Regions from separate parts of the Homo sapiens genome. Here regions 2, 3, 4, 5, 6 and 7 are each reported to be linked to region 1. The links are microRNA targets in miRTarBase. Many come from high-throughput screens and were not tested one by one. Region 1 holds a microRNA gene; each other region holds the end of a gene's coding sequence.

Region 1 (4,069 bases):
GCCACGAATCACTCAAATCATACAGCTAATTACCCTTGCTCAATCTCACTTCCTTCCAGACACTTTTGATTATAAGTTGGCTTCCCATAGAGCTCTCCCTTCAGGAGTGAATGTTCTGGTCCTGTCTATGGAGTTCTCCATATTTGGTTTAGTTTGAACCCATGTCAGATCTGTTTGCTGTGTGCTAACCAAATCAAATTTTTCAGCCTTTGCACTGAAGACCAGCATCTGGACTGCAATGACTTCACCTGAGGATATATCATCACTGTGTGTCTCTTTTCAGCGATTTCATACCTCACCTGGAGAATCCCTTACCCATTACACATTTTAATCAAGTAGAGAAAAAAATGAGTAATTGATCCTCATTCTTTTAGTTAAATGGGGCTAGTAAACACTAGTCAGATTAGGAGGGTGAAATTCATTTTTCTTTTATTGTTCAATTCCTAACTTAAACAGATCTCTCTCTTTAAATATAGATGTAGATTTTTCCCTCTGTGGCCAGTAACTTTGTTGAACTATGCTAAGCTGTTTAGAAAGATGGCAAGATGCTTTGTATGTCATTCTATTGCCTTTCAGCATAGATAACTTTGGACAAGTCATTAACTTCTGATTATCAAAAAGATGTGGTAGTCAAATACTCTCATAGCATCACAAAGGGACATAAGTTTAAAAAGCATCTATTTTGAGTAACACACACCTAAAAATAATAGGGGCCGATATTTGAATCAAAGGAAAGGGTATATCTGAATATATCTCATTACTGTGTACTTGAAATGCAGCTTTAAATATAGAATGTTTCTGAGAGTGCTCTTAGGATGAAATTAATAGAAATAAAGTTAATTTCCTGTTTGACTGTCACCATGTGACAATACAAATTAGATGAATTTTCAGCACACTTACAGAGATGTTTAGGATGCTTAGAATACAAGCTAAATCACATACGCAAAATACCCTTGAGGATGCCTTTCAAATAGAGGAGCAGTCATCCTGCAAAGCAGCTGTGATTGGATTACCACAAGCACAGCAGTCCACAAGACTGTCAAAAGGTAAGAACTGTCATGCTGTGGATAGAGAAAAAAGTAGTACTTTTACAACGAACCCCAAACTGAATGACTCAAAGAGAGATGCTATGGAATTACAGGAATTTCTTTGCAACAGAGCTGTTTCTTCTCACACGGGCAATTCTGTGTGGTACATTATATGGGAGTGCCATAGTCAAGATTTTTTTTTTAATTTCACAATGATATGGATTCTTCAAATAACAGTAGAGAGGCTAACAGTGCCATCAACTTCATACCAATACTTCAAGAGCAGTATCCTCAGAATGCTCCAAATAATAACCACTAACACTTATTCAACTAATCCTTATGACTTCCTAATGAAACAAATTGCTATTATTCCTATTTTATAGATGAGAAAACTGAGGCACAGAGATGTTAAGTAACTTGCCCAAGGTCAACTGGTAAGTAATTCAGAATAGTTTGGTTTCAGGGACCCTGCTTGTAACCACTACATTTGAGGCCACACAGTGACTTCATGGAACAACAGTATCCCATGAGATGTTATTAGATATTATATGGAATTGTTAACAGTGCTGTATTAGTCCATTTTCATACTGCTATGAAGAAATACCTGAAACTGGGTAATTTATTTAAAAAAAAAGAGCTTTAATGGACTCACATTTCCATATGGCTGGGGTGGGGGTCCTCACAATCATGGTGGAAGGCAAAGGAGGAACAAAGGCACGTCTTACATGGTGGCAGGCAAAAGAGCGAGTGCAGGGTAACTGCCCTTTATTAAACCATCATATCTCGTGAGACTTATTCACTATCACCAGAACAGTATGGGAAAACCCGTCCCCATGATTCCATGATTCAATTACCTCCCACCAGGTCCCTCCCACAACACGTGGGGATTGTGGGAGCTACAATTCAAGAGATTAGGGTGGGGACACAGCCAAACCATATCAAGTGATGTAGTTCAACAAAAAATTTGGATATGTAGAGTTAAACCAAGTTAAATATTTTTTTTTCTACAGAACTTCTCAGAGTCTTTAATGTCCACTGTGAATTTTCACAGAGCTCTCAGTTTGGAAAAAGGTATTAGGTTGGTGCAAAAGTAATTGCAGTTTTTGCTATTACTTTTAATGGTAAAAACTGCAATTACTTTTACACCAACCTAATATTTAAGATCACTGTTTATTTTCTTGGCATTGTGTATTTTGATATTTTTAAAGAGAAGACTACTTCTACCTTTAAAAATGCTGGCTAAGAGAAAGCCTTAATAAAAATTTCAAAAGAGAAAGATTTGAAAAATAAGTTATAAGATAAAGTTTGTAATAGTCTAAAGTTAGAAACTGTTAGAATCTATTAGAGTTAGAAGCTCTCGAAGCTGGAAAAGAGAGCAATACCGATGTTCAATTTTAAAATGAGGCATTTAAAATAAATATATTGACATGGAAAATATCTAAGTTATATTGCGAGCTGAAAATAGACAAGATAATTATGCTTTTTAATGCAAATGCTTTTAAAACAATGCAGTAGATATATGCATGTACATAATAAATGTAAATGCATAATAAAAGGCACAGGATAATACATATTGATAATGAATCAGGTTGCATATGAAGATGAGAGTTGGATTGTTAGGGGTCAGAGAAGGGATGAAAAGGGACTTATTTCCATATTGTTTATTATTTTGGATGTATTCATGTAACCATATATTATGTCTTTAAAAAATTTTCAAGAACCAATAAGGTGTGGTGACTGACTAGAGTAAGAAGCCAAAGAAAGAAAGAGGCTAAAAATAATGTTAAGAATTGAATCCTAGAAGAAAACAATAGGGAAGATGGAGAATGTGCTGGCTTTTGTGGGAAATAATGGATTTGGGTTTCAGACATGCTGTGAATTAGGTGACACCACCGTGGTTCATCAGCATCATAGTTTTGTGCCTCCAATCTGGCTCTTCTATATGCAATTCCAAAATACAAATTGATAATTGTTGCTTTTATACTGAATACCCTTTGATGTCTTCCCTTTGCTCTTTAAGAGTTCAAGTTGTTTAATATGGTTTACAAAACCCTTCATGATTTGTCCCTTGCTGATCTCTCTCTCTCGTATCTATCCTCTAACCACACTCAAAAGTTCATTCCTCTAAAAAAGCCATAATCTTCCTCACCTCCAGATCTTCCTATTTGTAAGACTCTGCCTGGGATACTTCCCCCATTTCTCCATCTCCTAATTCCTAAGTATCCACAGGGATCTACTTAAATGGCTGACTCCTAGTTTAGCTTAGCTATCTATGATAAACTGAATAATGGCTCCCAGAGAAGTCCACATCCTTATCCCCAGAACCTGTGAATATGTTACCTTAGATGGCAAAACTTTGCAGATGTGATTACGTGAAAGGTCTTGAGATAAAGAGATTAGCCTGGATTAGATGGGTGATCCCAATGTAATCACAATGATCCTTACAAGAGGGAGGTAGTAGAGTTAAAGTCAGAAAAGCAGGTGTGACGACATAAGCAGAGGCTGAGGTGATGGGCTTTGAAGTTGGAGGAACAGCCACAAGCCAAGGAATGCAGATGGCCTCTAGAAGCTGGAAAAGACAAGGAAACAGATTCTCCTGCAGGCTCCAGAAGAAATGCAACCCTGCTAACACCATGATTTTAGTCTCCCAAGACTCATTTTGGACTTTTAACCTTCAGAACTGTAAGATAATACATTGTATTGTTTTAAGACAATATGTTTGTGGTGATTGGCTACAGCAGCAATTGGAAACTCATAGTATCTATCCAATACATTTTCATACTTCTCTTACAGTAACACTGTATCAGTTGGGATAGGCTAATACAGCTTTATTCAAAGTTTGGGTTGCAAACCAGTGCAGGTCTGTAAACTTACTGGTTTGCAATTATATAAGTAAAGAAATTAAGAATAAGCATTTAGAAATTTTTATAGTAATTTGACAGAGTAATTTTAAATCTGTTGAATCTGATGAAAATTTGTACTTGAATGTTTATGTATTTCATGTCTCATTTATCTGCTAATTTACTTAAATTGTATTTTGC
Region 2 (4,069 bases), not on the chromosome of region 1:
CAATATTTTTTTTTTTGAGAAGAAGTCTCGCTCTGTCACCCAGGCTGGAGTGCAGTGGCACGATCTTGGCTCACTGCAACCTCTGCCTCCCAGGTTCAAGCGATTCTCCTGCCTCAGCCTCCCAAGTAGCTGGGGTTACAAGTGTATGGCACTGCACCCGGCTAATTTTTTGTATTTTTAGTAGAGACAGGGTTTCACCATGTTGGCCAGGCTGGTCTTGAACTCCTGACTTCAGGTAATTCACCCGCCTTGGCCTCCCAAAGTGCTAGGATTACAGGTGTGAGCTACCACGCCCATCTAGAACAAACTTCTTATGTTTTCAGTATTTTTTACAAAATTGAAGAAATCGGCTTTTTGATAACTTTTATTAGATAACATTTGTCTTCATCTAGGTTGACAAGTGCACTAAAATATCAGACTCCACCACTATACAATTCACCCACGTAACCAAAAACCACTTCTACCCCAAAAGCTACTGAAATGTTTAAAAATTAAAACATTTGGCTTCATCTAAATTAAATTAATGGAAAAAAGCCAAATCAGCTTTTTTTTAGTCTGTATTTTTAAAAATTAGCCTTACTGAAGATACTAAACTGAAAAAAAAAATTTATGCATCTTAAAACAGATTAATCAAACTTTATTGACTCTAAAAACATTCTTACATTGGTAACTTTTATTTTTCAGGGTGAAGATTATATAAAGATGAGTCAGTGATTGAAGCCAATATTCTGATTCCCATGGAAGATGGATGGGCAAGAGTGTACTTCTTGGCTCCATTTACTACCTACTGCTCAGTAGTCATCTCTGTAAATCTGCAATTTCTACCAAAATGTGTGATCGTAGATCTCAAAGGATCTTGCTTTAACTTTCAACACTTAGAAAATCTACAAACATTCAGACCTGTCTGGGTTGGTATTGCCACCCATGACATTTAACATGTTGTGATGCTTGAAAACACAGGAGTAGAGAAAATCGATGAAGATTGTATTTTTGCACCTTAACTCCACATTGCTTTATTGGTTAATTTATATTCTTTCCATGTAATTCATGTAATTGTATGTCTGTGTGTGTTTTATGTGTCACCACCTTTCATGTTTTTGATTGCCCTACAAAGAGAAACCAAATGAGCTGATTACTGACTATAAGTTCTCAGCCTTTATGGACCTAATCTTATTTTTATTTACTTGAGTAATGTTTATTCTCTGCATGAACCATGATTTCTCCTGTGAGCCATTCCAGCATAAGCTGTGAATATGTATTAACAAATATATACATTTCTATTTTTATAATCCATAAGGATATGCCTGTTTTAAATAACATACATATTAACAATATCTATCAGGAAAACCCTCAAGACAGCTTCTAGTTAAAACCTTTGTTGCTGTCCTCTCAAACTATATTTATAAAAATTTGCTAGGGCCAAATCCATACTTGCAGAATAATTCATCAAATTTTATTTTTAAGTGAAAAGTAACCTTTCAGGCATTTCAGCAGCATACATTGACAATCTAGGGTATATATGTATGTATGTTTCTTATTGTATGTCTATATATGTATGTGGGGAGGACAGGAGTGAATGTTCACACACTTTTCTTGCGTACTCAACTAAATTGGAGAATGTTTCTGAAGAAAATTGGATGAAATTAGCTGCTGAGATTGAGTTTCTGCCTTAAAATCTGAAACAAAAAAAGGGACAAATTGCTGGTAGATCTACTGACTGTAGCCATCACCAGAACACTTAGTTTCTTCCCAGACATGAATTTCCTGACAGGCTCTGAGCCAGAAACACACTGTGGGCGTGCATCTGGTTCAGCCCTGGATATGCCTCCACTGTGGAGGGAAGCATTGGAACTGGAGTTGTGCACAGCACCGCAGCTAGTGGGCCTGGCTGGGGGTGCAGAAGGGCAGGGTAGTTCTTTCCATTTCCCCTTGCAGCTACACTTACTTTCTCCCTGACTACCAAATGGAGTGACGGTTGAAGAATCAAGCTCATAATATGATACACCCAGACAGACCCAGAAATCTTTTGATTTCCCCAGCGAGATACTTACCACTCTCTCTTCTCTTTCCCATGGTTAAAACAGGAGTTGTGTTCTCTGTCGCTGCTAAATTATTCTTCACTTGAGTGAAGCAAATATTTAGCTTCCAAATAAAGTATATTTTGTTCTGAACTGGCAGTTTAAGAGGAGATACCGTAGTCTAGATTGTCTTTGAGGTAGAATATATGATGGACCACATAGTTTAAGATTACAAGGTACTTTCCCTCTTCTCTCAGGCCATGCATTTGAATAAAGTGCCTCCCTTAGCCTGAGCTCCTAAAGACCTCTTGTACTTGGTTGCAAACTCAGATCTCTAGTCTAGTCTAGTCTAGTCTAGTCTAGTCATGTGTGACTGTGTACTGAGATACCACTAGCCCAGTTTGCTGGGTCTCTATGTTTTGGAAGTTGGGGGTTTAATAATATTTAATGTCTTTTTAGGATCATAAACATAAATAGGTTTGTTGATATTCAGGCCTTCAGAATTTAAGGGTTTTAAATATAGCATTCAGATTGTAATTGGTATGTTTTTGCCATCTGGTCCACTCAATTGTATATTTTTATTTTGCAAAACAACCCAAAACTTACTTTATGTTGCTTTGTTCAGTACCTTTTGAATTCCCCCAGAAGAGTTGTTTTCAAAACAAACATTCCAGAATGAATGTCGCTCTTCAATGGAACGTCTTTATTGTGCTTGAAGTATTTCTTCTCTGGTTGTAATTCTAAATTACAGAGTCATTTGAGCTTTCTCCCCTCCCGCTAGTATCTTTACAGGAGCAGGGAAGAGCAGTAGAGGATGTATAATTTTGGGCGAAGTTAAATTACAATTTATTTGAGGTTATTCCTAAACCTATTTATTTGGTGTTTTGGAGGAGATCACACACTAAGAGAACGTTGATTGCCTCGGCTATTGTGCTGGCTGGACACTTTGGTCACTTTTGAAGCATGTTAATAAATGTCACTGATTAAAACAGCTGGAGCATTTCCTTCCCTTTCCAGTGAAGGAGCAGCATAGTGAAATCCTGGCACCCCTCACCTTTTTGTGATGACAAGATGGCTGACAGTCACGGAGTCCAGGAGAAGGTGCTGCTCTCCTTGCTTTCTGAGTAAACAGAGTAATGTTTTTTTTCTTATTTTCCCAAAGAAAGAAAAGGGGGAAAATATATTTGTATGTTTAGACCAGCCAAATTCTGTCATTATTTTAGTATCAACCTGCTGTATATTAGAGCAACTGAATATAATATGGAATAAGTTTGACCAGGTCAAGTTTTAGGATATAGTTGAATTTCTTTAAAAAGTTTTCTATTTTATCTAAAATCTTTCCATTATATCTAAATTAGAATGATCATCCTGCGCAAATTCAGATTACTGTTTGCTGGCTAATTGACAGTATTTCTCAGCATCACTATGTAGCATTCTGTTTTAGCATCTTTGAATTATGATCATTTGATTTGGCTAATTACAAAAAGTACAGGTTTAAACTGGACTTAGCTTGAGTTAAAGGCAAAGAAAATCTAAAAACATAAATGTTATATTTCACAAGAAATCAGTTGCATATTATCCATTACATATTTAGTTTTAAAAGGAGGAGTCACCTTGAATTATTTTCTGAGTCACCTTGAGTTATTTGATCTCTCAGCCTGCTTTCTCATCTGTAAAAAAGGGGGGAGGATAACTTTCACAGGGTAATTGGTAGGCTAAATAGGAGTTACAGAAAACTGTTAAATAGGGAAGAACTACATTAAATTTAAATATTCACATTATGCCTGTGTTTGACTATTGTTAGCATTTAAGTCACTAAAGATCAATATATTTAATGAGTTGGACTCTAAATATGTGGTACTGTAGGTATCACATTTCCCAAGTCTTTTTAGCTATATCATGTCTATCTTCGGAATGGTATAGTCGGGGGCCCTTTTTATCAATAATAGCCTTCTATTAATTAGACTAATTTTAAGAACAACTAATACTTCAACTGGCAATATCATCCTATAATTATCCACATAAAGTAGTCTTTCAGGCTGCTAGGTAAC
Region 3 (4,069 bases), not on the chromosome of region 1:
TTCACAGCCTTATGTACCTGTGGAGTTTGCTGACTTCAGTGTTTACAATGCCAGCTTGGAGAACAGGGAATGGTTTTCCTCTAAAGTAGATCTGTCAAACTCACGGGTCTTGGAGAAAGAAGTGTCCCGTAGCCCTACCACCAGCAGTATTACCAGTGGCTACTTTTCCCACAGTGCCTCCAATGCCACCCTGTCTGACATGGTGGTCCCTTCTAGTGACAGCTCAGACCAGCTGGCCATTCAGACGAAGGATGCAGACTCCACCGAGCACTCCACACCATCGCTTGTGCATGATTTCAGGCCGTCCTCAAACAAAGAGTTGACAGAAGTCGAAAAAGGCTTGGTAAAGGACAAGATAATTGTGGTGCCACTCAAGGAAAACAGTGCCTTAGCCAAAGGGAGCCCATCATCCCAGAGCATCCCTGAGAAAAACTCCAAATCACTGTGCAGGACTGGCTCATGTTCAGAACTAGATGCCTGCCCCAGCAAAATTAGCCAGCCAGCCAGGGGATTCTGCCCCAGGGAGGTGACGGTAGAACACACCACCAACATCCTTGAAGACCATTCTTTCACAGAATTTATGGGAGTGTCAGAGGGAAAAGATTTTGATGGTTTGACAGATTCTTCTGCTGGAGAGCTTTCCAGTAGGAGGAGTCTACCAAATAAAACAGGCGGCAAGACTGTCTCCGATGGGCTCCACCACCCCAGCCAGCTGCATTCCAAGTTAGAGAATGACCAGGTAATAATTCCAGAGGCAGCCTTTTGGGTTCTGTGCTGTCAATGAGTATGTCTAACTGTATGTCAACCCCAGAGGCCCTTCACCGCAACAACTTGGTAGGAAAGATTCATCCAGTTGTTTGTGACAGCAAAGATGAGCCCACAGAGAAGCAGGCTCACTTCCTGCACAGCTGTCTCTGTCGGAGAGCAAGTCTGTTTTGGGAACTAGAACGCAATTGTGAAATTATAAGACCAGTGGATTTTTTTACCTGGCACATGGGTTGGTGTTGAATGAAGTGTTCAGATGGATAAGGATCAATCTCATATTCATTCCCTGGGATGTTTAGTTACCAGTTTTCCCAAAGTGTTCTGGTAGCATCTACCATATTTCATCAAATCTGTGATTCCTTTGATTATTATATGAACCATTATTTTATGTATCATTAAGAAAAAATACTGCCAATTAAACTCTGTCATATCAACAGTTGTAAGACACCCCAATTTCAGAGATGGTAAAGTGTGGAGAGAAAAACATATATATCATAGAATTGGAAATAGACAGTCGTTTGGTGCCCGTAGGTGAAAAAGTGCTTTGGGGCGGTATAGGCAAATTCCAGCAGCAGTTGAAGTTTGGACTTTGGAAGTAACTCAGTTTATAATACTGGTTAATTTTCTTTTTTCTTTTTTTTTTTTTTTTTTTTGAGATGGAGTGTGGCTCTCACTCTGTCACCCAGGCTGCAGTGCAGTGACACGATCTTGGCTCATTGCAGCCTCCACCTCCCTGGCTCACGTGATCCTCCTGCCTCAGCCTCCCGTGTAGCTGGGACTACAGGCACGTGCCAGCACATCTGGCTAATTTTTTTATATTTTCACCATGTTGGCCAGGCTGGTCTCAAACTTCTGACCTCAGGTGATCCATCCCCCTTGGCCTCCCAAAGTGTTGGGATTATAGGCATGAGCCACTGTGCCTGACTAATATTGGTTAATTTTCATACGGGAACAAAATGAGTTTTTGCCACTATTACTAAGGAAAATCACAAATTACATAAATAAGAGATGTTCTGCTTCTGAGCATTCTGCTCTGAAGTACCACCATTTATTCCCATTCACATTCATTTGTTTGGTCCCCCAACTTGCTGTAAAAGGCATGGGAGAGTCATGGCTTAGCAAAATAAAGAACTGACAGAGCTAGAAAGAGGCTTGGTAAAAGTAAAATAATCATGCTGCTACTCTATCCCTTTGTTTTGCGAGCAAGTTACTCCATTGATGTGGCTTTTGCCCCTGCTTTTCATAACAGCCCTTAAAATTTCAATGTATGGTCATTTATACAGCATACTCATTACTGAACTGCCAAAACCTAAACAGTCATCTCTGACAAGAAAAAGACTTCCTTCCCCGACATAAGAATAATGATAGAGTCACTCACCACCATTCTTGCAAGCAATACATGCATTTGTTTAGGTCTTCAACTTTCTTTACCTGGATTAAAGCAGAAGCTACACAGCTGGTATACATCAGCTTTTCAACCCTTGTTCGTCAAGAAGGCCAGTGTCAAAGACTCTTTAATTCTTTACTGTAAGATTAGGTTTGCTTCTCAAACCTAAAGGTGCTACAAACTCTAGGGGCAAGGAGGGTGTGGCAGGCCTCTTAAAAATTCATATTCATGGCCGAGTATGGTGGCTCATGCCTGTAATCCCAGCATTTTGGAAGGCCGAGGCAGGTGGATTGCCAGATGTCAGGAGTTCGAGACCAGCCTGGCTAAATGGTGAAACCCCATCTCTACTAAAAATACAAAAATTAGCCGGATATGGTGGCACATGCTTGTAGTCCCAGCTACTCGGGAGGCTGAGGCAGGAGAATCACCTGAACCCAGGAGGCGGAGGTTGCAGTGAGCCAAGATCGCACCACTGCACTCCAGCCTGGGCAACAGAGCAAGACTCCGTCTCAAAAAAAAAAAAAAAAATTCAAATTCACCTGGGCTTAGTGGCTTGCACCTGTAGTTCCAGCTATTCTGGAGGCTGAGGCGGGAAGATCACTTGAGCCCAAGAGCTCAAGACCAGTCTGGACAACAGAGCAAGATCCTATCTCTGTTTAAATAATTTTAAAAATTAAAATTTTTAAAAAATTCAAATTCCCAGGAGTCACTGCCATCCAGCCCTAAGATTTTGCTTTATACAGTGTGCAGCAGGGGAAATAAGGTATTCACAAACCCTTCCTTCCTCCCCATCCCCTCGCATCCCCATAGAGTAATAGGAGACAGGTTATCTGAGGGCCATACTGTGGGAAGCACTGCCCATAGAAGAGGGAAGAGGAGCAACAACCCCCTTCTTTTTTCATTGCCTAGATTATTTAGAACCCAACAGGAAAAGGTAAGGATTGGAAAGTTTCCAGAATAGTACGTTCCTCCCAAAGATCATGGTTTAAAGTGAAATTTACAAACATGTTATATCAAGATGATGGGATTATGGAGATTTTTCTCCTTTAAAGAGTTTTTAGCGGAGCGCAGTGGCTCACACCTGTAATCCCAACACTTTGGGAGGCTGAGGCGGGCGGATCACCTGAGGTCACAAGTTTGAGACCAGCCTGACCAACATGGAGAAACCCTGTCTCTACTGAAAACACAAAATTAGCCGGCAGTGGTGGCACATGACTATAATCCCAGCTACTCGGGAGGCTGAGGCAGGAGAATCGCTGGAACCCGGGAGGTGAAAGTTGCAGTGAGCTGAGATTGTGCCATTGCATTCCAGCCTGGGCAACAGGAGCTAAACTCTTGTCTCAAAAAAAAAAAATTTTGGCGGCCAGGCATAGTGGCTCACGCCCGTAGTCCTAGCACTTTGGGGAGACCAGAGCAGGAAGATCGCATGAACCCAGGAGTTTGACACCATCGTGGGCAACATAACGAGACTCTGTCTCTACAAAAATTTAAATGTTTTTTTATTTAATGTATCTGCTACATTGGTTTTAATAAGTTGTTTTGACAGTTTAAAATTTTTTCTGAGAACCATAAGTTTGACTTTGTTCAAACCCCTGAAATGACTTAGACTGCACATCCAGAAGTCACTTTTTTTCCTTAATTTTTACTTTGGTTGTTGCTGTCATTACTTTTCCTTGAAACATCACCTCAGGGCTTTTACAATGTGGATTCCAGCACTGGATTCCATAATAAAACCAATCCTGTGGGTCCCTTCAGGAAGAGCCCCTTTCTTGTGATGGGTGTGGACTGGGCTGAGAGTAGGTGCTGTGGGTGGGGTGGGGAGGTGGGGATGAGAAGCATGAACTCACCAGCCTCTGCATTCCAGGGAGGCACAACCTCACGGTGAGAGCAGCAAGCACCCCTCCTCAGGCCACAGCT
Region 4 (4,069 bases), not on the chromosome of region 1:
TCATCAAAGTTTTTAATGATATGAAAGTAAGGAAATCTTCTACACAAGAGGAGATCAAAAAGAGAAAGAAAGCAGTTCTCTTCTGTTTAAGCGATGACAAAAGACAAATAATTGTAGAGGAAGCAAAGCAGATCTTGGTGGGTGACATTGGTGATACTGTAGAGGACCCCTACACATCTTTTGTGAAGTTGCTACCTCTGAATGATTGCCGATATGCTTTGTACGATGCCACATACGAAACAAAAGAGTCTAAGAAAGAAGACCTAGTATTTATATTCTGGTGTGTAAAAACAAAAGAAAAAAGTACTTTTAAAATGCAAGGATTATTATTATCATAGTCAGTCTTACCTTTGTTTTTCTTATAAATGGGATTCAATAATTTTTTTTTTTTCTGTAGGGCTCCTGAAAGTGCACCTTTAAAAAGCAAGATGATTTATGCTAGCTCTAAAGATGCCATTAAAAAGAAATTTACAGGTACAAACTTGAATATTTGGGGCAGAGAAATTATTCTTTATTAATTATAATAAAGTAATAGGATAATGTTTTTTCTTTTTAGGTATTAAACATGAGTGGCAAGTAAATGGCTTGGATGATATTAAGGACCGTTCGACACTTGGAGAGAAATTGGGAGGCAATGTAGTAGTTTCACTTGAAGGAAAACCATTATAAAATGACAGTCAAGTGCCATCTGGATCTTAAGGAGCTTCCATTTCTCCAGCTCAGTCCATTGGAATAGTATTAGGTTTTGGTTTTTTGTTGTATTTCCCCCTTTCCACTGGGCCCTTCCAACACAATGAATGAAGGAAATATCATTTATTTAAGCAGCCTATCAGTGATTGCCATTAGACTGTTGAATACTGTTACTTTTATATAGAACCCAAGGAATGCCTTCCTGTCATATTTTAGCCAAAACAACTGGTTATATGCCTCCCTTGCAGCAAGCACTACAATGTATGTGATCGTCAATGTGAATAGCTTAGAATACTGCAAAGGATAAGCTAATTGAATGCCTTGAAAGTATTATCCACTGGTCAGATGGTCAACTTTTTTCAGTATTATTTATAGTTGGCACTTGATTGCAGTTCTGTGAGGCTTGAGCATTCATACACCTCACCTGCCTTGGCAAGCCTATTTTAGTGATATGGCAGCACGGATATAACACTATGCATTAAAAGCACTTTTTGTAATAAGTTTAATATCCTAAAAGGAATGCCAATTAAGTTTTGTTAACTGTGTCATCAACTTATCCTAGTACCTCAGTGTTCATTCCTGTTACCTGCATATCTTCTTAAAAGAAATAGCTGTTATTAATGCCTTTTTGTTTTCCATTGAGTGTACACTACTGAATAAGTGTAGGAGTTTTATGTTTACCATGTGAGTCCTGCAACACTAAAGATATTTTGAATATCAGTCATGATGGCAATTTCTGTATAAAAGAGCCTTAAATGGAACATTGTTTTGAGATCAAACTCCCCACCCTCACAAAAATGGCCACGTTGCAATAAAAATTGTGGCATATTACAGAACGTTGCCTTGTTTTCCTTGGAAATTTTGCAAAATGTTATGTGAAACAACTTCTAGGGTAAAAACAGCTATTACTAATCTCTGCACTGGTCATTTGAGAATTTTTTTTGTACAGCATTCATGTGTGATATTTTCCAGATTTGTTGGATCTATTTGGTTTAAAAAGTATTCTATCTTAAGGCCAACTAATATAAAATACCATTGTTAAAGAATGGTACTTTTATAAACATTAGTGTATTTATTTCCTATGTGTTAATATGAAGATCAGAAATTATTTTTTGCACTTTGGCATAAATACTTTTCAATATCTGATTTGTTCTCTGGATAAATTAGCATAGTTATTTTTTTATTCACATTTACATTTCTAAGTAGTTGTATAGTAGAAGCAGGAAGCTCTTATTGCTTATTTGGTCGTAATGAAAATAATTTGTAAAATGTCCTTTAAAAGTTTAATGATACTTCTGATGTTTCGGAACAGTCATTTCACCTACTATTTCTGAATATATTTTGCAAATTGAATTGGAATAGGAATTGATAATAGCAGTCTTAAACATTAGTAGTGGGATTTGGCTATGGTCCAGACTGTGCTCCTTATAGAGAATTTGATCTGCTCAGTGTGAGCGGTTTGCTGTTAGCCAGGGCTATTTATGGCAAACACATGCTTTTGTATCTTGTCATAGTTATCCACAAATGGCAAAACTGGACTTGATTCTACTGGTATGCAAAACAGGCATGCTAGTAAGCAGTCAGTCGTGGCTCAGAACTTAACCCCATAGCTCAGAGGAATGCTTTTAGCAGAAAACAGGAAAGAAAATATCCCTTAAAAATTTTTTTTGAATGTGTGGAAGTAATTTTAGTATAATTAGATTTTTTCCATATTTTTGAAAGATTTTTCAGATGTGAACATTAAAAATAGGGATTAAATGTCTAGGCTTCCATTTAAAATTATATGAATGGTTTGGGATCTTTTTGCACTGAGCAATTTTATTTCAGGCTTCCAGCTGTCCCTGTGAGTTATCCTGGACATTTCGATGGTTTTTGGTAAGGCCAAACTCTGATAAGCAAAACAGAGAATACTGACGTATACTTAACCATATGTGTAACTGATACTTGGCACCATGGAATTTTTCATTGAGTTATTTCCTCATTCTTTTAAAAAATAAGGGACTATAAATCAGTTATGTAGTATCTTTTGTTTTTGTAGCTGATTCCTTAACTTTCTTGTATGCCTCTAGTAATTTCAGAGATTAAATATTGCTTTAAACTGTGATACTTTGATTTGCTAGATTGACAAAACTGATACTAATATAATTAAGTTCATCTTTGAAATACATCTTTGTGCGTAGAGCCAAAAAAAGAGATAAAATTAATAATAGTTCACTTGTTATTTGAGATTAATTTGGCATTTGAAATGATCATTTTATTTTACAATCATTTATAATGAATCAATGTTCCAGTTAGCTTTAAAAGGTATACGGTGCTAATTAGTAAAATATTGAAGGCAATATTTTACTGCTAGCTTGCAAAGTTATGAGAGTTTAAAAAATAAAATATATGAAAATATGTAAAGCTGTTGAGATGTGTTTACTTATACTTCAGAACATTAAAAGTTTAAAAACTGGTATTTCAGATCAAAGAGGCATCATTATCTTTATTCTGTTTTTCAGGATTTTAGTTGGTAATACTTTCTCATTTATCAATAACAATTTTCTTTAAAAACTGAGTGTTACAGCAATTAATTTTAGCATTTTCAGACAAATGGGAACAGTTGGCATGTGTCCCAAACTGGCTATCAGCTGTTGTTTTCCATCATTATCTAAAATAGTGTGGCCAGCATTGTGTATTGAAATGTGCCTTTTTCGTACATTGGAAGAGAAGCCTCTTACTGGGTTTGAGTTTCTCTGATACAGAACATTTGTAGCAGCTAATTTATGGAATCTGGCAAATAAGCTTTGGGAGGAAATTCTTTTAAAAGTGTTTTCTTGTTAAGGAATAATCTCAACAATGGTAAATCATCAAGAGGTTGAGAAGACTCTTAGGTTTGCCACTCAGAAAAAACAGTCTCATTTTGCTCTTCATAGGTCCTGTTTTTGCTTGCACATTTAATAGTAGGTGGAGATGCAAAACAACGTGAATGTTCATTTTTTTATGAATAGTATTAAAGCTACTAGAGGTGGGCAGGCAGGTCCCAGTAAATGTTGCCTTTTTTTTTTTTTTTTTTTGAGACAGGGTCTCACTCTGTTGCCCAGGCTGGAGTGCAGTGTCAAAATTTCAGCTCACTTCAAACTCAACCTTCCCAGCTCAGATGATCCTCCCACCTCAGCCTCCCAAGTAGCTGGGACTACAGGCATGCACCACCATGCCTAATTTTTTTTTTTTTTTTTTTTGTATCTCTTTTGTAGAGACTGAGTTTGGCCATGTTGCCTAGGCTGATCTCCAACTCCTGGGCTCAAGCTGTCCTCTGACCTCCGCCTCCCAAAAGTGCTAGGATTGCATGCATGAGCCACCACTTCAAAAGCTCAAATACTGCTTTTGAAGACAGCAT
Region 5 (4,069 bases), not on the chromosome of region 1:
CTGCCTCCTCCTACAGATGAAGGAATAAGCCATCATATCAACCCAGAGACAGTGTCTTATGGCTAAATAGAGCCAGTTTCCTTCAATAGAAAGACTTGACAAATGGACATCTTGAAAATAAATATGCTTTGGTAATAGCTGTGTAAAAATCTGTAGTTGTAGGTCTTAGAAAAATGAAGCATGGGCCGAAATAATTTTAATCCTCTTGGGTCTCTTTGTGGGCACATATCTAGGCATACTGTCCCTACAAAGCTAAACAAAACTAATATTTGTTTTTGTTTTGGAAGAGGAATGATGGAGATTTGTTTGTTGTCTTTTTAATGTATAAGATTGTGGAAATGATTAAGGTCATATGGCTCTTAGAAAGTTTGATGCACTTATATTCTTTCATCAACGTGAGAATTAAAATGTATTTTCTGTCTTTCATCATTTAGTTAATTGCACTTAAGCGGAAGATATTTCCCAGAAGGAGGATACACAAAGAAGCTAGTCCCAATCGAATCAGAGTATAGAAGATCTTCATTTGAAAACCATCTACCTCAGCATTTACTGAGCATTTTAAAACTCAGCTTCACAGAGATGTCTTTGTGATGTGATGCTTAGCAGTTTGGCCCGAAGAAGGAAAATATCCAGTACCATGCTGTTTTGTGGCATGAATATAGCCCACTGACCAGGAATTATTTAACCAACCCACTGAAAACTTGTGTGTTGAGCAGCTCTGAACTGATTTTACTTTTAAAGAATTTGCTCATGGACCTGTCATCCTTTTTATAAAAAGGCTCACTGACAAGAGACAGCTGTTAATTTCCCACAGCAATCATTGCAGACTAACTTTATTAGGAGAAGCCTATGCCAGCTGGGAGTGATTGCTAAGAGGCTCCAGTCTTTGCATTCCAAAGCCTTTTGCTAAAGTTTTGCACTTTTTTTTTTTCATTTCCCATTTTTAAGTAGTTACTAAGTTAACTAGTTATTCTTGCTTCTGAGTATAACGAATTGGGATGTCTAAACCTATTTTTATAGATGTTATTTAAATAATGCAGCAATATCACCTCTTATTGACAATACCTAAATTATGAGTTTTATTAATATTTAAGACTGTAAATGGTCTTAAACCACTAACTACTGAAGAGCTCAATGATTGACATCTGAAATGCTTTGTAATTATTGACTTCAGCCCCTAAGAATGCTATGATTTCACGTGCAGGTCTAATTTCAAAGGGCTAGAGTTAGTACTACTTACCAGATGTAATTATGTTTTGGAAATGTACATATTCAAACAGAAGTGCCTCATTTTAGAAATGAGTAGTGCTGATGGCACTGGCACATTACAGTGGTGTCTTGTTTAATACTCATTGGTATATTCCAGTAGCTATCTCTCTCAGTTGGTTTTTGATAGAACAGAGGCCAGCAAACTTTCTTTGTAAAAGGCTGGTTAGTAAATTATTGCAGGCCACCTGTGTCTTTGTCATACATTCTTCTTGCTGTTGTTTAGTTTGTTTTTTTTCAAACAACCCTCTAAAAATGTAAAAACCATGTTTAGCTTGCAGCTGTACAAAAACTGCCCACCAGCCAGATGTGACCCTCAGGCCATCATTTGCCAATCACTGAGAATTAGTTTTTGTTGTTGTTGTTGTTGTTGTTTTTGAGACAGAGTCTCTCTCTGTTGCCCAGGCTGGAGTGCAGTGGCGCAATCTCAGCTCACTGCAACCTCCGCCTCCCGGGTTCAAGCAGTTCTGTCTCAGCCTTCTGAGTAGCTGGGACTACAGGTGCATGCCACCACACCCTGCTAATTTTTGTATTTTTAGTAGAGACGGGGGTTCCACCATATTGGTCAGGCTTATCTTGAACTCCTGACCTCAGGTGATCCACCTGCCTCTGCCTCCCAAAGTGCTGAGATTACAGGCATAAGCCAGTGCACCCAGCCGAGAATTAGTATTTTTATGTATGGTTAAACCTTGGCGTCTAGCCATATTTTATGTCATAATACAATGGATTTGTGAAGAGCAGATTCCATGAGTAACTCTGACAGGTATTTTAGATCATGATCTCAACAATATTCTTCCAAAATGGCATACATCTTTTGTACAAAGAACTTGAAATGTAAATACTGTGTTTGTGCTGTAAGAGTTGTGTATTTCAAAAACTGAAATCTCATAAAAAGTTAAATTTTTGTCTGACACTTTGATTTTTAAATCTTTGAGGATTGAGTTTACTGTTACTCAGATTCAGCAGTCACTTGAGTGCCTTTACTGTGTATCAGGTTCTGTGCTGAACATTACTAAAATTAAGTGGAAAGTAAGGAAAGATTAGTATTATACAGAAGAATGTTGCTTTATGGGGGGAAAATAGTTTCTAAATGGAATTTATCATATGGTAAAATTTAGGATATCTGGGTATCATTATAAAAGCTGAGATTTATTCTAGAAAAGTTAGAGAAATGAACATTTGTCTGTAATGACGATTTCTGTGGTTAGATGAATATAGTCCATACCTAATTAGGAGCTTGATAATGGGATGGATAATACAATCATAGGCTATTCATAGACTCATTCTAATGATTCTGTGATTCAGTAGAATCATTAGAACAGAGGAACCTCAGAAGTTGATGAGCAGTCAGATGGTCAGAACCATTTGTTCAAATCCTATAGAAAAGGTCACTCTGTGTTTTAGTTTTTTTGTGCTGCTGTAACAAAATACCTCAGACTGGGTAATTTACAAAGAACAGAAATTCATTTTCTTACAGTTCTGGAGGCCGAGAGTCCAAGATCAAGGGGCTAGCAGGTTTAGTTGTCTGGTGAGGGCTGCTTTCTGCTTTTAAGATGGCTTCTTGAATGCCGTGTCCTCACAGAGCAGAAGGGCAAGAAGGCACAAACTGCCTCTGTCAAGCCCTTTAATAAAGACATCTAATTGAATTGATGAGGGCTCTGTTCCCATGACTTATCACCCTCTGAAAGCCCCACCTCATAATACTTTTAAATTGCCAGTTAAGTTTCAACATGAATTTTGGACAGATAAAAATTCTGTGATACAAAAGAAGGAAGGCTGCTTCTCCTGCCTGATTCTCAAGGTGTTCCCTCCAGCTCCCAGGCCCTTCGGGCAGAGTTTCAAAACAACTGTCTGGACGAACCCTTGCTTTTTATCGGCAAGGACACCAAGGCCACGGGGATGACATGACTTGCTCAAGGTCTTACAACCAGTTAGAGGAAGAGGTAGGGTGGGAACCCGGGTTGTCCCTCTTTCCTGTCCCCACCAGCCCATGCTGCCTCCCCAGGACTGTGGCACATGTGGGTGAAGAGCACACTCTGCAGTCAGACTACGGGAGTTCAAGTCCTGGATCCTGGACACTGCTTGCCGTGATTTAGCTTTCTCTGCCAAAATGTGGGAGGCAATACTGGTAGCTACCACAGAGGCTTATGGTGATAATTAGAGGAAATGACATGTGCAACACACGCAGCCCAGTGCCTGGCAAATAGTCCTGCCTGCTAAATGTCAGTGGTGATGATGGTAATGATGAAAATTCGTGTTAAAGACTGTTGTCCAGGCCAGAGGTGAGGCTCCTAGTCTAGTCATTAGGGTGAGATGATTATATTGCTCTTAGCTAAAAAAGTGACACATTTTCTAATTACAAAGGATTTTTTTAACCTACCTTATGTCTTCAAAAGTGTTTTTTGTTTGTTTGTTTCTTTTGAGACGATCTCACTCTGTTGCCCCAGGCTGGAGAGCAGTGGCGTGATCTCAGCTGACTGCAGCGTCAACCTCACAGGCTCAAGCAGTCCTCTCACCTCAGCTTCCTGAGCAGCTGTGACCACAGATGTGCTCCACCACACCTGACTAATTTTGTTTATATTTTTGTAGAGACAGGGTCTTACTGTTATCCAGGCTGTCTTGAACTCCTGGGCTCAAGCAATACTCCTGCTTCGACCTTCCACGGTGCTGGGATTACAGGTGTGAGCCACTGTGCCTGGCAAAAGTGTTCATTTTGAAAATTATTTCTACATATACCAAGAAGTATACAAATAATAACAGATTAAGCATTTAAACTAAAGGGTAATCACTACTTACGTCAAAA
Region 6 (4,069 bases), not on the chromosome of region 1:
TGTGGCTCATGCCTGTGATCTCAGCACTTTGGGAGGCTGAGGCAGGAGGATCAGTTGAGCCCAGGAGTTATTATGATGGCACCACTGCACTGCATCCTGGGTGACAAAGCAAGACGCTATCTCTAATAATAACATATCCAGATACTTTTACCAGTTGTTGTTACTATAAATTAGGTAATTCAAATTTTCCTAAAATTATATTAATAGTTTTTGCTGTTTTACAGAGTAAGCCATATCAAAGACTTCATTGAAAAATACCAAGGATCTCAAAGAAGTCCTCCGTTTTCCCTGGCAACAGCTCTTCCTGTCCTCAGGTTGCTAGATGAGACACTCACACTGGAAGAAGCAGATTTACAGAATGCTGTCATCATTCAGAGACTCCAAAAAACTGCATCTTTTAGAGAACTTTCAGAGCACTGATTTTTGATAGACTAAGTGGAAAATTTGCAGAGAAATGATGGTTGTAAGTGGACATGCAAACCAAAATTGGGGATTGGAGAAGTCAGACTCACTAGACTTTTGGTTCGAGTACTATTGAACTCTCTCCTGATGAGAAGATGTTTAGATAAGTACAAGTTAAGAAAGTAGCATATGACTGGAAACTATATTCAGTGCACTTTCTCCAAAAGACTACCCAGAAAAATAGACTTATTTTCAAATACCAGTTATCAAGATATATTAAATAGCTGTATTGTTTAGAATCTTAATATGGTATAAATTAGCATATGTATTCACAATATTCATTCAGACATCATTCCCAGACAGCAGGGATTTATTTAAATGTTAGCTGTCTGAGTTTTTAAATAGCTAATACGACCGGGTACAGTGGTTCATGCCTGTAATCCCAGAACTTCGGGAGGCCGAGACAGGCAGATCACGAGGTCAACAGATTGAGACCATCCTGGCAAACATGGTGAAACCCCATCTCTAGTAAAAATACAAAAATTAGCTGGGCGTGGCGGTGCGCAACTGTAGTCCCAGCTACTCGGGAGGCTGAGGCAGGAGAATCTCTTGAACCTGGCAAGTGTAGGTTGCAGTGAGCTGAGATTGAGCAACTGTACTCCAGCTTGGCGACAGAGCAAGACCCCCTCTCAAAAATAAATAAAATAAAGTAAAATAAATATAAATAATTGTGGCCGGGTGCAATGGCTCATGCCTGTAATCCCAGCACTTTGGGAGGCTGAGATGGGAGGATCACTTGAAGCCAGGAGTTTAAAACCAGAATGATCAACAGAGTGAGACCCCTGTCTATATATTTTTTTAATTTAAAAAATAAAAGAATAAAATTGTGTAGCTCAGTATAGTATCAAGATTAATCTGCCTACTCACATTTCTACACTTTATAAAAATGTAATAAAAGAAAATTATCTTTCTAAAAAGCCTATTCCCTTTCCATTTTATTTTCTTTCAAAAATTATGGATTTGTTTTTGGCTAACATTTGGGATTAGCCATTCATTTGCCACCACTCACTTAGAATATAATGCCGGTGTGTGTCACATTACTAGTATTTTTTAAATGCATCATATAAAGTATGGTTTTCTGTTTCTTTTTCGTTTGTTTGAGATGGAGTTTCGCTCTTGTTGCCCAGGCTGGAGTGCAGTGGCGCAATCTCAGCTCACCACAACCTCCACCTCCCGGGTTCAAGAGATTCTCCTGCTCAGCCTCCCAAGTAGCTGGGATTACAGGCATGCGCCACCATGCTTGGCTAATTTTGCATTTTTAGTAGACACGGGATTTCACCATGTTGGTCAGGCTGGTCTCGAACTCCCGACCTCAGGGGATCTGCCTGCCTAGGCCTCCTGAAGTGCTGGGATTACAAGTGTGAACCACCGTGCCCAGCTGGTTTTCTGTTTCATACATCAGAGTCAACTTGTGAATACATTTAAAGATTATTTCATTTTGATATCACGAAGAAAAACAGGCTTTATATCTCAGACTTTAACTAAATCCAGTTAGACCTCAATTTTTCACTGTCAGATTAAATCCCCATACCTGAAAATAAGTTTAACATTTTTTTTTGCAAATGATCTATTGAATCAGATTTAAAATGAAGCATGCATTGAGTGTGCCAAGGAACTAAGTGGTCCATAGCAGCAGTAATGTTCATAGGGTGCGAGATGCCTGCTATGAAACAGCAACTCTCAAACATTTTTATCTCAAGACCATTTGTTTATGTGAGCTATATATATTATTATATTAAATATTAAATTTTTAAAATATTTATTTATGGGCCAGGCACGGTGGCTTACGCCTGTAATCCCAGCACTTTGGGAGGCTGAGGCAGGCGGATCACAAGGTCAAGTGATTGAGACCATCCTGTCCAACATGGTGAATCCCCGTCTCTACTAAAAATACAAAAAAAATTAGCTGGGTGTGGTGGCATGCGCCTGTAGTCCCAGCTACGTGGGAGGCTGAGGGAGGAGAATGGCTTGAACCCGGGAGGTGGAGGTTTCAGTGAGCCGAGATTGCGCCCCTGCACTCCAGCCTGGTGACGGAGCGAGACTCTTTCTCAAAAAAAAAAAATTATTCATTTAAAAATAACTTCTGGCTGGACATGGTGTCTCACGCCTGTAATCCTAGCACTTTGGGAGGCCAAGACAGGTGGATCACTTGAGCCCAGGAGTTTGAGACCAGCCTGGGCAACAAGGCAAAACTCTATCTATAAAAATTACAAAAATTAGTGCAGTAGCTCACACCTGTAATCCCAGCACTTTGGGACACTAAAGCGGGCAGATCACCTGAGGTCAGGAGTTCGAGACCAGCCTGGTCAATGTGGTGAAACCATGTCTGTACTAAAAATACAAAAATTAGCCTGGTGTGGTGGCACATGCCTGTAATCTCAGCTACTAGGGAGGCTGAGGGAGGAGAATTGCTTGAACTCAGGAGGCAGAGGTTGCAGTGAGCCGAGATTGCGCCACTGCACTCTAGCTTAGGCAACAGAGTAAGACCCTGCCGTAATAATAATAACTTTTTTTTTTTTGAGATAGAGTTTTGCTCTTTCCCCCAGACTAGAGTGCAATGGCGCGATCTTGGCTCACTGCAACTTGTCCCCCCGGGTTCAAGCGATTCTTCTGCCACAGCCTCCCGAGTAGCTGGGATTATAGGCGCCCACTACCACGCCTGGCTAATTTTTGTATTTTTAGTAGAGACGGGGTTTCGCCATGTTGGCCTGGCTGGCCTCTAACTCGTAACCTCAGGTGATCCGCCCGCCTTGGCCTCCCAAAGTGCTAGGATTATAGGCGTGAGCCACTGTGCCCAGCCAATAATAACTTATAAAACATGAAACGATTTAGTGAGAAAAGTGGCCGGTTTTTTGGGGGGAATTACTTTCTGTCATAAAGAAGATAGATGGGTTCTCATGTCTTCTACATTCAGTCTGTTGTGCAGTCACATATCATGTAGACTCTGGAAAACACCTCTGTATACTGGTGAAAGAATGAAAAGAAGCAAATAATGCCTTAGTATGATTATGAAAAACGTTTTGACTTCACAGTGCCCTGAATGGGTCTTGGGAATCTCCAGGGATCCCTCAGGCACACTTTGAGAACCAATCTATATAAAGTGATGGTTCACAATGATTCTGAAGCCTTAGTTTCAGAATCATTTGGGGCAGCTTTTCAAAAATGCCATTCCTGCCACCTACCACAAAGATTCTGATTCACTGTATCTGTGATGGGTCTCAGATCTCTGCATTTTTAATCTCACGTGATTCTTAAGTATGTGGTGGAAGTACCTTTCTTCAGGAAATTCTGTCCTAAGCTTTTACCCTGAGAAAATAAAACCTGCATGCTTTCACCATGGACGGTGGGAGACTCCACTGAAACACATCTGCTAGACCACTAAGTTTATCCTTGTCACCCAGTTTGCTCTTGGAAAGAGTCTGTTCCCTTTTGTCACTGAACCAATCATGACATAAACTTGTGCTTTACCTCCTATAGCACAGCCGAGACAAGGCTGGAACATTTAATTAAGGTTTTTACTAAGGACTCAGGAATAACAACAGGGAAATATCTATGTAACTAGATGACCTGACATAAAATCTATCTTCTGATTGCAGTCTATTGTGAG
Region 7 (4,069 bases), not on the chromosome of region 1:
AAATAAGCACTGAACTGTCTTATGATTCACCATTTGTTCACACTGAAAATTTTCATTGATGGGGAATACAAAAATGTTTTAATAACTGCATTTAAAAATAAATGCAGGCTCACTTTTCCACATGTAAAAAGCAATGTAATACCTGCACATCATAAAATGTGAAAAGGGGGTTATTTTTGTCCAAATACACCCATTAAAAAGGTTTTAAAAATACAATGAAACTTCTTTATAACTTTAAAATCTAGCTCAGGCACCCCTGGTTTGGAGCTGTTTATAAGGAAATTTTTCTGAGCAGGAATCGTTGCTCTATAAGCATTTCATTTCATTAATTCTTTATGGGATGGGAAAATGCTTGGGAGGGTCTAGGTCTATTATATATAATGAAGTTTCACTGTATTTAAAATCTGATCAATCCTACACAAAATGTGTTTTTGTAATTCACTGAATTTATATTACATGCTTAATTCAACCTGAATTAATTTGGGGAATATTAAATGATTGATCTTATCTAAATCTAGGGGTGGGGTTTTCCAGTGTAATTTCTCCAGCATCTATTCAAACATTCACCTAGTACTTACTTAAGAATTATAGGAGCTTTATAAATGGGAAAAAAATGCCATAGGTCTTAGATATCTCAGTGCACAAAACCGAGAATTACTAATAAGTTAGCCCCTGCCAATCATTTGAGACATGTGGAATAGCGCCCTTGGGTTTTCATCACACTGACTTTCAGTTAGCCCCATCTCAGCCTAAAATGTGACCTGGTTGCAACTTATGTCTGATGTTAGTACCCTGTGGCTGGAAGTGGTCAAAGCTACGCATTGATCTCCTCTACTTCCAGGCCAAGAAGGGTAAATGCAATGACTGACAAATGCAACCCTATTAAGAAAAAGCCTACAGTGTAAACAAGAGAGTCTATGGGCTTCTTATATCCAAGAACTGTGATTGATTGATAGGTATAGCTGACTCCATTTGATTTCAAGGTCTTGTCTTTAAGGGGAGCTGGGGTCTCGCTCCATCTTATTCTAAGGTAATTTCCTCTGGTAAGGTAAAGTACCAGGTTCTGCCACAGGGCTTTACCTTGTGACCATCTTAATGCAAAAGAATGCATTTGCAAGAAAAGAAAAAAAAAAAAAAAAAAAAGAAACCTCTCAAGATACAGAATTAACAGGGAGAAAATCTGAAGACTAAAGTAATTCTAGTTATTTTCTTTATAATGCGCAGGGGTAAAACAGCATTCCTCAACTTTCAATAGAATCGTGGAATTAATTAGAGTCGTAGCATAACTTCCTCACCTAAAAAAAGAAAAAAGATATGCCCCACAGCTTTCATGTGCAAAATGATTAATAATTTAACTCACCTCTGCAAAGTATAAAGTGCATACAAATGCTATGCAATTATAACACTCATTCTTAAAACAGTATTACTGTTGTTTGCAATGCTGAGCTACAAAATATATGGTTCAAACTGAACTGGCAAAGAAATTTGGAAAGAAATAATGATGGAACATGACTCACTCACTAGGCACAACATTCACATTTCGGTTGATTTGCCAATGCAGTCATTATATAGATATATTACTTTGAAGAAAACAACTTCATTAGCTTATCTAAGTATGTTTCTTGAGAGGAAAAAATCTGATATACAAAACCAGCAAAAATGTGTACAGATAGATGATACATCTTCTGAAAGCAGATAGACTATTAATTTAGTGAAAAGAATAGTTTTTAATGTTTTGGCAAAGTCTTTTCCAGCCCAGAGTAAACACAAAATGGGCAGGCTGGAGTGAAATATTTTCACAGTGTACAAAGCAGTTCACATGGATGTTGCCACAGCAAAGTAAGCTGACATGTATTTGAGGTCATTTGCATGAGTCAAACTTTGCAATGAGTAACTCACCCAGGAAGATATAAATTATTTATAGATAATGATTTGCAAAAGAAAATGTCTACTAAAGTTGTACTAGCTACATTTTAAAAAAAGTAGATTTACATGGTCTGCTCATTATAGACAAGTCTATTCACAGTATGCTTGACTATATTATATGTAAAATCATATGGCAAAAGAAAATGAAATAACAGAGAACATGGGAAAATATCCCCCACATATGTTTTAAAATGCCCTGCAATTTTCACATTCAAAATTTTATGCATCTAAATCTAAAAAAATATTATATAGAATACTCTTAAGTTACACAAACTGATAATTTACTGGTTTCTTTTTTACTCTAATAGGAGCAAATTACCACATACTTGAACAAAGTTAAAATAGTTACTATTTCTTTATAATAAATTTGATGTATAATTTACTTGTGCTTTTTGCACCAATTTATAAATACAGTATATGCAATACACAACCAAGACTGACACTGACAGTAATAATTAAATTCAAAAGAGCAAATACTTACCATACAAAATAAACAGCAAATACACCTTTTATGAAAACCAGAGCCTTCTGGACTTTGGGGCCAGATTCTCTGGAAACCATGTCAAGTGTGAGCACTGGAATCTCAAGCCAGCTACTGGATTTTTTTTTCCCCTTAAGGTGGCATAAGGTTCAGGAGAACCAAAACTGGCAATAAATAGTTGGACGATTCCACTGCAGTTCTTTCAGGCCTTTAGGATTTACATGTTGTACCTTCACAATGACTCTCATCAATGATCTTGCCTCAAAACAAATTTGAGTACAGCTACTTCTAACAGGTTTCCGCACATCTTAGGGCGGCTCTCAAAGAAACCTTGGTTTAGGTTCTTGGTTTAAGAAGTTTAAGTACGAAGCAACAATCTGTTTCAGCACCTTTTGACCACAACAAAAGCAAAGAAGAGTCCTACATAAATAAGAACAAAGTTTATAAAGTGCTTATGAGATTACAAACATTTCAAATTAGAGCGATGCAAATAAATGTCCGTTTCACCATCACAGGTGAATGCAGAATAAACAGGCCATGTTTCTGTCAAGATCTGACATGCCTTTCAAATCAGTAGTTTGGTCCAGCACAGTTTGGAAAATAAAATTAAAAAAAAAAAAACAACGTCATCATTAATGAATGAAATACATAAATACCTTAGATCCATCATAATCCATTCTTTCTAGAAATGTGAGATTCAAAAAAAGCACCAATTTCAAAAGGTCTGCTAGCACACTCTTCCGGGAGTAGGCCTGCCTGCATGATTCACATTTGTAAACCTACTTTAAAGGTGAATTCAACAAAATCAAACCACAACTTCTCCTTGGCTTTTTGTTTAAACACCTTTTTTTTTTTTTGTGAGATGTAGCATAAAATATAGTAAAATGTCAAAGAAATGAAAAAAAGGGACATTTTTAAGATGACTAATGCATTAAATTTGATTTTCTGTTTTTCAGTGCAAACATAAAACGTCATGTCTTCTCCTCTTGCAGATTCAGAAGTGTGAAGGATGCCCATACGGAGTCACTCCTTGCTGTGGCTGGTTGCCTAAGGAGAAAAATAAATTGAACCAAAATTACAGACACAAAACTATTGCACAGATGGATGCTACCCTCTTGTCACTGCTCTCAGTACCAGCTGCAGGTACAGGGAAACAGAATGGCCGGAGAGTACTATCCTTGCCCTGAAAAACCCTTGTGGTGGGATTCAAGTACCACCCTGCAGAGGGGACACCTTTATTCACAGTCCACACTTGCCAATGCAAGGCCGCAGGATTTAGGTTACTGGCCCATCCAGAGTGTCTCCCTCTGAACTAAACTACTTGGTATTAACTTTCAAAAGGAATACAGTAAAAGTTTCATAAAACATTGAAAGTTCTCAAAATGCTTATGAAAGTCAGCAATTCTACTTTAACACATAATTGGTAAGAAAAAATTAGATTGGAACTGGGCAATTTTCTGCAAATAGCCATAAGGTATGTACAACAGAACTGTGCAAGAGTATATGCAGGTGCAAGACTGTCCGTGTGTGATGACTCAAGCGTGTGCCTATGTAGACATGCATGCCTGCACATGCATACAGAAACAAGGAATGGTCAGTAGATACCAAAAAATGACATGGGCTTAGAAACAGCTACTGCTTGTTTAACTCTGGAGTATTCAA

The links. Region 1 holds the annotated microRNA hsa-miR-548x-5p (UGCAAAAGUAAUUGCAGUUUUUG, at 2,112-2,134, shown strand). A microRNA usually pairs through its seed, bases 2 to 8, with sites in the 3' UTR of a target mRNA and lowers its output. Matches are read on the target gene's strand: a 7mer-m8 pairs with bases 2 to 8, a 7mer-A1 pairs with bases 2 to 7 and ends in A, and an 8mer does both.
Region 2: miRTarBase lists CREBL2 as a target of hsa-miR-548x-5p. Seed matches in the 3' UTR shown: 7mer-A1 at 989-995 and 7mer-A1 at 2,600-2,606.
Region 3: miRTarBase lists KIF13A as a target of hsa-miR-548x-5p. The part of its 3' UTR that is shown has no 7-base or 8-base seed match.
Region 4: miRTarBase lists CFL2 as a target of hsa-miR-548x-5p. Seed matches in the 3' UTR shown: 7mer-A1 at 1,550-1,556, 7mer-A1 at 1,801-1,807, 7mer-A1 at 2,030-2,036 and 7mer-A1 at 2,492-2,498.
Region 5: the mRNA of GNPTAB is a reported target of hsa-miR-548x-5p. Seed matches in the 3' UTR shown: 7mer-m8 at 901-907 and 7mer-A1 at 913-919.
Region 6: miRTarBase lists UBXN2A as a target of hsa-miR-548x-5p. Seed matches in the 3' UTR shown: 7mer-A1 at 1,711-1,717 and 7mer-A1 at 2,017-2,023.
Region 7: miRTarBase lists MED12L as a target of hsa-miR-548x-5p. Seed matches in the 3' UTR shown: 7mer-m8 at 2,060-2,066, 8mer at 1,934-1,941, 7mer-A1 at 1,334-1,340 and 8mer at 1,097-1,104.

The regions. Positions count from the first base shown.
Region 1 is chrX:38,022,014-38,026,082 of GRCh38, reverse strand. It overlaps MIR548AJ2 (microRNA 548aj-2), which reads left to right and starts at 2,097; the gene lies at 2,097-2,188. The region is part of intron 1 of SYTL5 (synaptotagmin like 5); the gene reads right to left.
Region 2 is chr12:12,641,310-12,645,378 of GRCh38, forward strand. CREBL2 (cAMP responsive element binding protein like 2) reads left to right here. Exons shown (of 4, transcript NM_001310.4): 4 at 685-3,799. The coding sequence ends at 689. Among named protein-coding and RNA genes, the nearest start is that of CREBL2, 31 kb to the left of the region's middle. RefSeq lists an enhancer at 2,003-3,202.
Region 3 is chr6:17,760,825-17,764,893 of GRCh38, reverse strand. KIF13A (kinesin family member 13A) reads left to right here. Exons shown (of 39, transcript NM_022113.6): 39 at 1-1,201. The coding sequence ends at 784. Among named protein-coding and RNA genes, the nearest start is that of NUP153-AS1, 56 kb to the right of the region's middle.
Region 4 is chr14:34,709,465-34,713,533 of GRCh38, reverse strand. CFL2 (cofilin 2) reads left to right here. Exons shown (of 4, transcript NM_138638.5): 2 at 1-280; 3 at 398-474; 4 at 557-4,069. The coding sequence ends at 669. Among named protein-coding and RNA genes, the nearest start is that of CFL2, 3.1 kb to the left of the region's middle.
Region 5 is chr12:101,743,607-101,747,675 of GRCh38, reverse strand. GNPTAB (N-acetylglucosamine-1-phosphate transferase subunits alpha and beta) reads left to right here. Exons shown (of 21, transcript NM_024312.5): 21 at 435-2,177. The coding sequence ends at 512. It overlaps LOC124902997 (a long non-coding RNA gene), which reads right to left and starts at 3,686. Exons shown (of 2, transcript XR_007063424.1): 1 at 3,647-3,686; 2 at 2,709-2,888. RefSeq lists enhancers at 3,599-3,708, 3,829-3,918.
Region 6 is chr2:23,999,448-24,003,516 of GRCh38, forward strand. UBXN2A (UBX domain protein 2A) reads left to right here. Exons shown (of 7, transcript NM_181713.4): 7 at 225-4,069. The coding sequence ends at 420. Among named protein-coding and RNA genes, the nearest start is that of MFSD2B, 8.6 kb to the right of the region's middle.
Region 7 is chr3:151,432,137-151,436,205 of GRCh38, reverse strand. It overlaps MED12L (mediator complex subunit 12L), which reads right to left. Exons shown (of 45, transcript NM_001393769.1): 45 at 1-3,454. The coding sequence ends at 3,402. IGSF10 (immunoglobulin superfamily member 10) reads left to right here. Exons shown (of 8, transcript NM_178822.5): 8 at 1-3. Among named protein-coding and RNA genes, the nearest start is that of IGSF10, 27 kb to the left of the region's middle.